2 linked regions of the Homo sapiens genome follow. The protein of the gene in region 2 interacts with the protein of the main gene of each other region in a pairwise test. Each region holds a gene or a part of one and is shown on either strand. Other genes may lie near its edges.

Evidence for each region.
Region 1: the proteins of RARG (region 2) and RHPN2 interact in a two-hybrid assay, tested with the Homo sapiens proteins (one large-scale study listed by BioGRID and IntAct).

What each region holds. Positions count from the first base shown.
Region 1 is NC_000019.10:32,998,889-33,002,388, forward strand, and holds part of RHPN2 (rhophilin-2), read right to left. Parts: coding exon 3,359-3,500; intron 818-3,358; coding exon 698-817; intron 1-697. UniProt on the Homo sapiens protein: Binds specifically to GTP-Rho. May function in a Rho pathway to limit stress fiber formation and/or increase the turnover of F-actin structures in the absence of high levels of RhoA activity.
Region 2 is NC_000012.12:53,222,210-53,225,709, reverse strand, and holds part of RARG (retinoic acid receptor gamma), read left to right. Parts: intron 1-3,500.

The DNA.
Region 1 (3,500 bases), on a different chromosome or scaffold from region 2:
AGAAGAGAGGAGGAGAGAGAAGGGGAGCGGAGGGTAACAGGGGAGGGAAGAGGAGAGGAGAGAACAGGAGAGGAGGGGAAGGGAGGGGAACAGAGGGGAGGAGAGGGGAGGGGAGCAGAGGGGAGGGGATGGGAAAGAGGAGGAAAGAAAAGAAGCGTGGAGAGTGAGTCCAAGGTTTCTGGCCTGAGCACCTAGAGGGGTGGGAGTTGCCATCACTGAGACGGAGAAGCTGCGTATGTGTGCATGGGTGGTGCGCAGAGGGGCAGGTTAGGGTGGTGGAGGTGAGGTCTGCACATGGGAAGAGATATTCACACTGAGACATGGCAGAGACCAAACCAGGACACTGCATTACCAGTCATTAGGTGTTCTTGGTAATTCAGCCATGCATAAGGAAATCAACAAACGTCTCCTTCCCTGTTAGCGTGACACATGCCACCCTGTGGACCCCAAGGGAGATGGTTAAAGTCCTGGCTCCACAGTGGGAGGCCTGGGTGCTATGGAACCCATGAGAACACAGCCTGGGAAGCCCTCTGAGGCTCAGGACCGCGCCTCATGACTTCTGAACCCAAAGTGGCCACGATGACTCGGAACACCCCCCTCTCCCGGGCCCTCTTCAGGGACCTCTCTGTGGCTGGCTGTGAGCAGGACCAGCTGGGCACCAAGTGGGGCCCACATCTGGGTGCAGGGGGACACGCACCCAGCTGTCGGCGCTGCTGATCATTCTTCAGTGTGGCCAAGGGTGTCAGCCCCTCTGGCATGTGGTCGTAGAGCTGGGACAGGCACTTCTCCTGGTGGTCCAGATCCGTGCCTGGCTTCACTGCAAAGAGAACCACAGGTTAAATCCCCTCTCATGGACCTGGCCACAGACCCACGTAGAGATTTCTCTACCATGTCTCCAGCTTCCTTTTTTCTGCAGTTTCACAAGGCATTTGGGATCATGGGTCTCCTTTCTGCCCCCGGACACACCCCAGGCCGTCTAACCCTCAAGGTTTTCTTTTCTTTGAGACGGTCTCACTCTGTTACCAGGCTGGAGTGCAATGGCACAATCATAGTTCACTGCCGCCTTGAACTCCTGGGCTCAAGTGATCCTCCCACCTCACCTCCTGAGTAGTTAGGACTACAGACATGCACCACCACATGCCAGGCTAATTTTTAAATTTTTTTGTAAAGACAAGGTCTTGCTACATTGCCCAGGCTGGTCTCAAACCCCTGGGTTCAAACGATCCTCCTGCCTTAGCCTCCCAAAGTGCTGGGATCAAATGTGTGAGCCACTATGCCTGGCTACCCCAAAGCTCTTGCTCACTGGGACCAGTCACACTCCAGAGGTTCATAATTTTTTTTTTTTTTTTTGAGATGGAGTTTCGCTCTGTCACCCAGGCTTGGGTGCAGTGGTGTGATCTTGGCTCACTGCAACCTCCACCTCCCGGGTTCAAGCGATTCTCCTGCCTCAGCCTCCCGAGTAGCTGGGATTACAGGCACATGCCACCATGCCCGGCTAATTTTTGTATTTTTAGTAGAGATGGGGTTTCAGCATCTTGGCCAGGCTGGTCCTGACCTCGTGATCCACACCGATTTCGGCCTCCCAAAGTGCTGGGATTATAGGCGTGAGCCACCACACCCGGCAAGGTTTGTAATTTGACCCTGAGCCCCCACACGCTACCTCCTCCAACTCACCCACCACACAGAACCTCCTGGCATAGCCCAGACCCTGTCATGCCCGGCCTGCACCCCTCTGCGGGCCTGCACACCTGCAGCAGAGCCCCTTCCTGCTTCAACCACACCCTTCGTGGCGCGCATCCTGCTCTCAAACCTCACAAAACCACTCTCCACTTCCCCAGCACCCTCCGCCTCTGTTCTGTGCTCAGACACTTTACTCCCTCTAGGCTGACCCTTCCCTCCTGTGCAGATGGAAAAGTTGAACTCAAATGTCACTGCCTCTAAGAAGCCATCCATGACTGTACCATGGAGTCCACCTGCTGCTGCATTTGTGTCTCTACAGCAATCACCGAGGCACTATATGGTATTTCTATTTGTTTTCACATCTTGTCTCACCTAATAGACTATATAGTACTAGGAGTGGCGGCTCACACTTTCAGAGAACCTACAGTATATAAAGCATTATTGAGCTTTGCGTACAGGCCCTTCGTTTTCGTTTTCATGACAGCCTGTGAGGCAGGTTCTCTCCATATACCCATTTTACAGATGAGAAAATTGAGGCAGAGGACAGCTAAGTAACTTGCCCAAGGTAAAACAGCTCATTCATGGAAGAGCTGAGATATGAACCCAGGAAGTCTGGCTCCAGAGGCTGTCTTTTTAATTCCTTGGGAGGCTGCCTGGATTAGTACTCATTAGATCAAAAATCCCTGGCCAGGCACCATGGCTCATGCCTGTAATCCCAACACTTTGGGGAGGCCAAGGCAGGACAACTGCTTGAGGCCAAGAGTTTGAAACCAACTTAGGCAACATAGTGAGACTCCATCTCTATAAAAAAAAAATTTTTTTTAATTAACTGGTGTAGTGGCATGTGCCTGTATTCCCAGCTATTTGGGAGGCTGAATTGGGAGGATCGCTTGAGCCCAGGAGTTCAAGAAGGCAGTGAGCCATGATCATACCACTGCACTCCAGCCCCATCTCTAACAATAAAATAAAATAAATAAAATAATAAAATAAAATAAAATTCCGATCATCACAGATTTTTTTTGCATTAATTTTTATTTTATTATTATTAGTTTTTTTGAGATGGAGTCTTGCTCTGTCACCCAGGCTGGAGTGCAGTGGCACAATCTCGGCTCACTGCAACCTCCACCTCCCTGGCTCAAGCCATTCTCCTGCCTCAGTCACCCGAGTAGCTAGGATTAGAGGCACGTGCCATGCCCTGCTAATTTTTGTATTTTTAGTAGAGACAGGGTTTCACCATGTTGGCCAGGCTGGTCTCAAACTCCTGACCTCAAATGATCTGCCTGCCTTGGCCTCCCAAAGTGCTGAGATTACAGGCATGAGCCACAGCACCTGGCCTGCATTAATTTTGATTCTTTTAAAATATTACCTTAAAATGTTACTTATCTTGATGCCAGCATTTTTGGCCTTCCCTTAGATTCTAGATTCCAGGTGAAAATTCATCCTCTTGCACCCAGGCAGAATTAAAGGTGCCTCTTCTTCCTCCCTCTAAAGAAGCTTATAACCCCTAACCCCACCATGGCCTGTGCGGCAGCTGCCTCAGTCATGGGTCACTCCCATCCTCTGCCTTCAGCCTGTGAGCATCTCCAGGGAAGGCAGTTAGCTCTCACTCAGCTCAGAATCGCCCCTGGGGCAGCTGGACCACAGCCCTCGCCAAACTCCCGAACCCCCCAGGCCTTACCCTGGTGGTCGATGAGGAGGATGGCAGTGAAGTAGTGGGCCAGGGCCGCGTAGTGGTGGGCCTTCACGCAGGCTAAGCTGGCCCAGGAGTAGGGGATGTTCTCTTTCACCGGCGCCTGGCTCATGGCTGCGTGTAGCTGTTG
Region 2 (3,500 bases):
AGCTGGTTAAGAGAAGGCTTCAACTGGGGCCAAGAGAAGGTGATTGAAGGGCGGGGGAAAGAGCAATTTCAGAGACAGAGTTGGAGAGAAAAAGACAAAAAGATAAACGCACATCCTTCATGGCTCCACGAGCGCAGAGACAGAGGTAGAAGAGAAGGCGCCCTGCTTCCAGGAGGGGGCACGCAGAGGGTTGTGTGTCTGTATGTGAAAGGGGTGACTAGGCTGGGCTGGCAGCTCCACTGGAAAGAGTGTGTTCATCGGAGAAGGGGTGAGTGTGTGGTGCCTCCAGACTTGATGCAGTTGTGTGTGCCCAGCATCTCCCTGGGCCTCTGCTCATGTACAGAATTCCAGTGTGTGCAACAAAGAGTCAGTGTGAGGAGTGAGGAGGGATTTTGTAGTGCTGCTGACGCTGTGGCTGGCGTTTGGTGAAGCCTGCTGGTGGCATGTCTGTAGTCCAACAGGGGTTATTTGAGTGGCATGTAGGTGAACAAGACAGCACAAAGTACCCTTTTTGGAAACTACAGCTGGGCTTCCCCAGACTTCATTTTCACCCCATGAATCTGTCCTAGGGACCTGGGGAAGTGGGAAGGAACCACCCTCCCCACATGAATGTACTTCTGGCAGAGAACCCTACAACTCAGCCTCTTGGGACTTGATTTTCTCAGGTTCTGGGAGAGGCAAGTAAAGGAGATGGAGTGGAGAGGGAGAGGAGAGAGAATGGTAGTGGGGATAATGCTAGAGCTAGTACCCAGTCCCCAGTGACGTCCCCCTTGCGCCCCTGTGCCATGGACACACTGAGATCAAGGTCAGGGTTCAAAGTGAGATTAAGGTAGGGAAGTGGTCAGGCCGGGCTCCATCTTCGAAGGCCATGCTGAAGGAGGGGGCTGAAAGGAGAAATCCAAGGGAGGAGCCAGAGCCAGGGCAGGTAGCTGGGGAGGGTGCGGCTAGCCTGGAAGGACAGGCCTGGGCAGGGAAGTGGCAGGAGGAGGGAGGAGGGGAAGGCTTGGGGGTGGGTTGCTATGCGGCTTTAATGGGGGTGGGGCATGCAGCACCTAGTGGTAGCAGAGAGGAAGACATAGGGGAGACGAAGAGATCCAGGAGTCTGGGAAACCTTCCAGAGTGGGAGAGTAGCAGAAGGATGAGAGAGTGTCCTCTCTCATTTCTCCGACCTGCTGTCCCTTTTTGGCTGGGAGCATCTAGTGGAGAGGGTTTAGAGGCTTAAATCTGATGCCAAAGGCATACTCACATTGAGTTTGTGCATCTCATCACCCTCTCCCTTATTCTATGGATGACACACACACATTCTCTCTCACACATAGACTAAGAGAGGTGGCCCTTGAAGAGGTCTGGCACTTCTCCCTGGGGCTGGCTCTTGGATCTTATTGCTGGGTCCCTGGCACCTTGGGGACATCCTTGTTGAGAAGTGAAGTCTTGCTCTACTTCCTGGGGCTGTCTCGGGGTCTGAAGGGGGGTGAGACAGGCATCTCAGAACTGTCTGGTGGTGGAGGGGAGGCTCAGGGAGCACGTGCTGCTGAGGCAAGCACAGGCCTGTGCTCATGGAAAGCAGAGGGGTGTGTGTACGTGTGTGTGCGTGCGTGTGTGTTCATGCATGTGCATGAAACCTCAGGTGTCTGTGTCCCTATGTATCTCTATGTTTGTGAATCTTAGTGTGTTCTAGATTTGCTTTCTATAGGGAACAGAGTGTGATGAAAGAGAAGGGAAGCCTTGCCGTCCTCCCACCCCTGAGCAGATAGCTGTGGTCCTGATGACCTAGCCCAATTTGTCCTCTGAACCTGGTGATGCTGCCCTGGCCATGGGGCCACTGTCCCTGGGGCAAGGAGCCCAGATTTCACCACACTAAGTCACCACACATGGAGAAACTGAGGACAGGTTGGCACAGAGAAAGTCTTGCTTAAAAGAAACTGAAAAAGAGAGACTCACAGACAAGACAAGGGACAGCTACCCAGGCCCAAAGGTGCAGACACAGAGAAGCCAGGCACTGGGAGAAGCAAGGAGAACAAGCAGGCGGGTAAGGGCAGTGAGGCCTCCTCCAGGAAAAAACCCCAGTCGACTGCCTCTTTTCCCCTCCCCTCCCCGGTCTCTCCTCCTCCGGCACAGGCTCCAGCTCCAGGCCGACACAAACGGGGCTTTGATTGCAACAGGAAACCTCTTGGGCGGGGGGGGGGCGGGGGGAGCCGGGCAAGCCGCCGCCGCCAGGGCCCAGGCTGCACCCCCCTCTCCTGGCCCCCTACCCGGTCCCAGCCCCCATCCTGCCCAACGCGCCTCACATCCCTGCTTTGGGCCCCACTCTCATTCACACCTCGCTATTCTTCTGCTCTTCTGCTGCCCCCTCCTCCAGAGACCCCCCTCCCATTGCCCTTCAGGTGGGACTCCTACCTCAGGACTTACCCTTCTGGCAGGGCCTGCTTTACTTTGAAATGCCCCCTTTTCAGCTTTTCGAGGGAAGGTTTTAGAAAAAAGGGAGAATTTAGCGTGAGGAATTCAGAGCCAGTTATCCTCAAGCCCCATCCAGAAGGTGGCAAGGAGGGAAAGGCAGGGTGCATGAGGAGTTAGCTGTCCCTGCCCTGCCTCGTCCTGGCCAAACTCATCCTTGCCAGGGTGGCAGGGACTCTAAGGGGTGACCCCGAAAGAATCTGAGTGCTAATGGCTTTGTTAGTTGGGAAGGGGTACTCTCCTCTTTGCCTCTAGGGCTATGCCTTTGTGGGGCTCTAGCTGGGAGGGGGGTATGCCCTGGTGGTGGGGATCATAGGGAAGGGGGTGAGTCAGGCAGCAGCCCCCCTTCATACTCCCACCAGGATGGTGGAGAACATCTGGTTCCCATGAAATGCTAGAAGGCTAATGGGTCTAATTGCTGCAATAAGGGCTGGGGAAACTTTGGGGAAAAGAGGGGGCACTAGATCCCCCACCCTCTTACCTTCTCCCCAAGGCTGTACTAAGTCTGTCTAGAATGGGGGGGTCAGGGTTGATGGGGAGGGCGGGCCTGACACCGTAATGCCTGGTCCTAAGGACCCCCTCCATGCAATGCCTGGGATGCACACACAGATGGGGTGATGAGTGGGGTGCATCTGGTGAAGAGAAACGGGGGCTATTGAGGACTCATGGCTTCCTGGAGCCCTCCCCCAACTCCTCCTGTGCCCTCCTCCCAACCCCCCTCCCTGTGGCCTGGCCACTTCTGGTTCTAATTACCAACCAGGCAGGCCTGACTTAATTGGGACCTTTCAGATTTCTGAGGGGGAAGGGGGGTACTGACAGCTTGAAGTTGACTAATCAAGGCTCTTTCCCTCTTGTTTTCGGGGTACTCCCTATTTTGCACTTAACTGTTTTTGTTGTTGTTTGCTGCTGGTCAGATTCTGATTCAGAAAGTTCTTTCTTTCTCTCTCTCTCTCTCTCTTTCTTTCTCCTCCTTTCTCTTTCTTCCTTTTTCTTTCTTCTTTCTTTCTCTTTCTTTTCTTTCTCTCTCTTTCTTTCTTTTTTTTGTG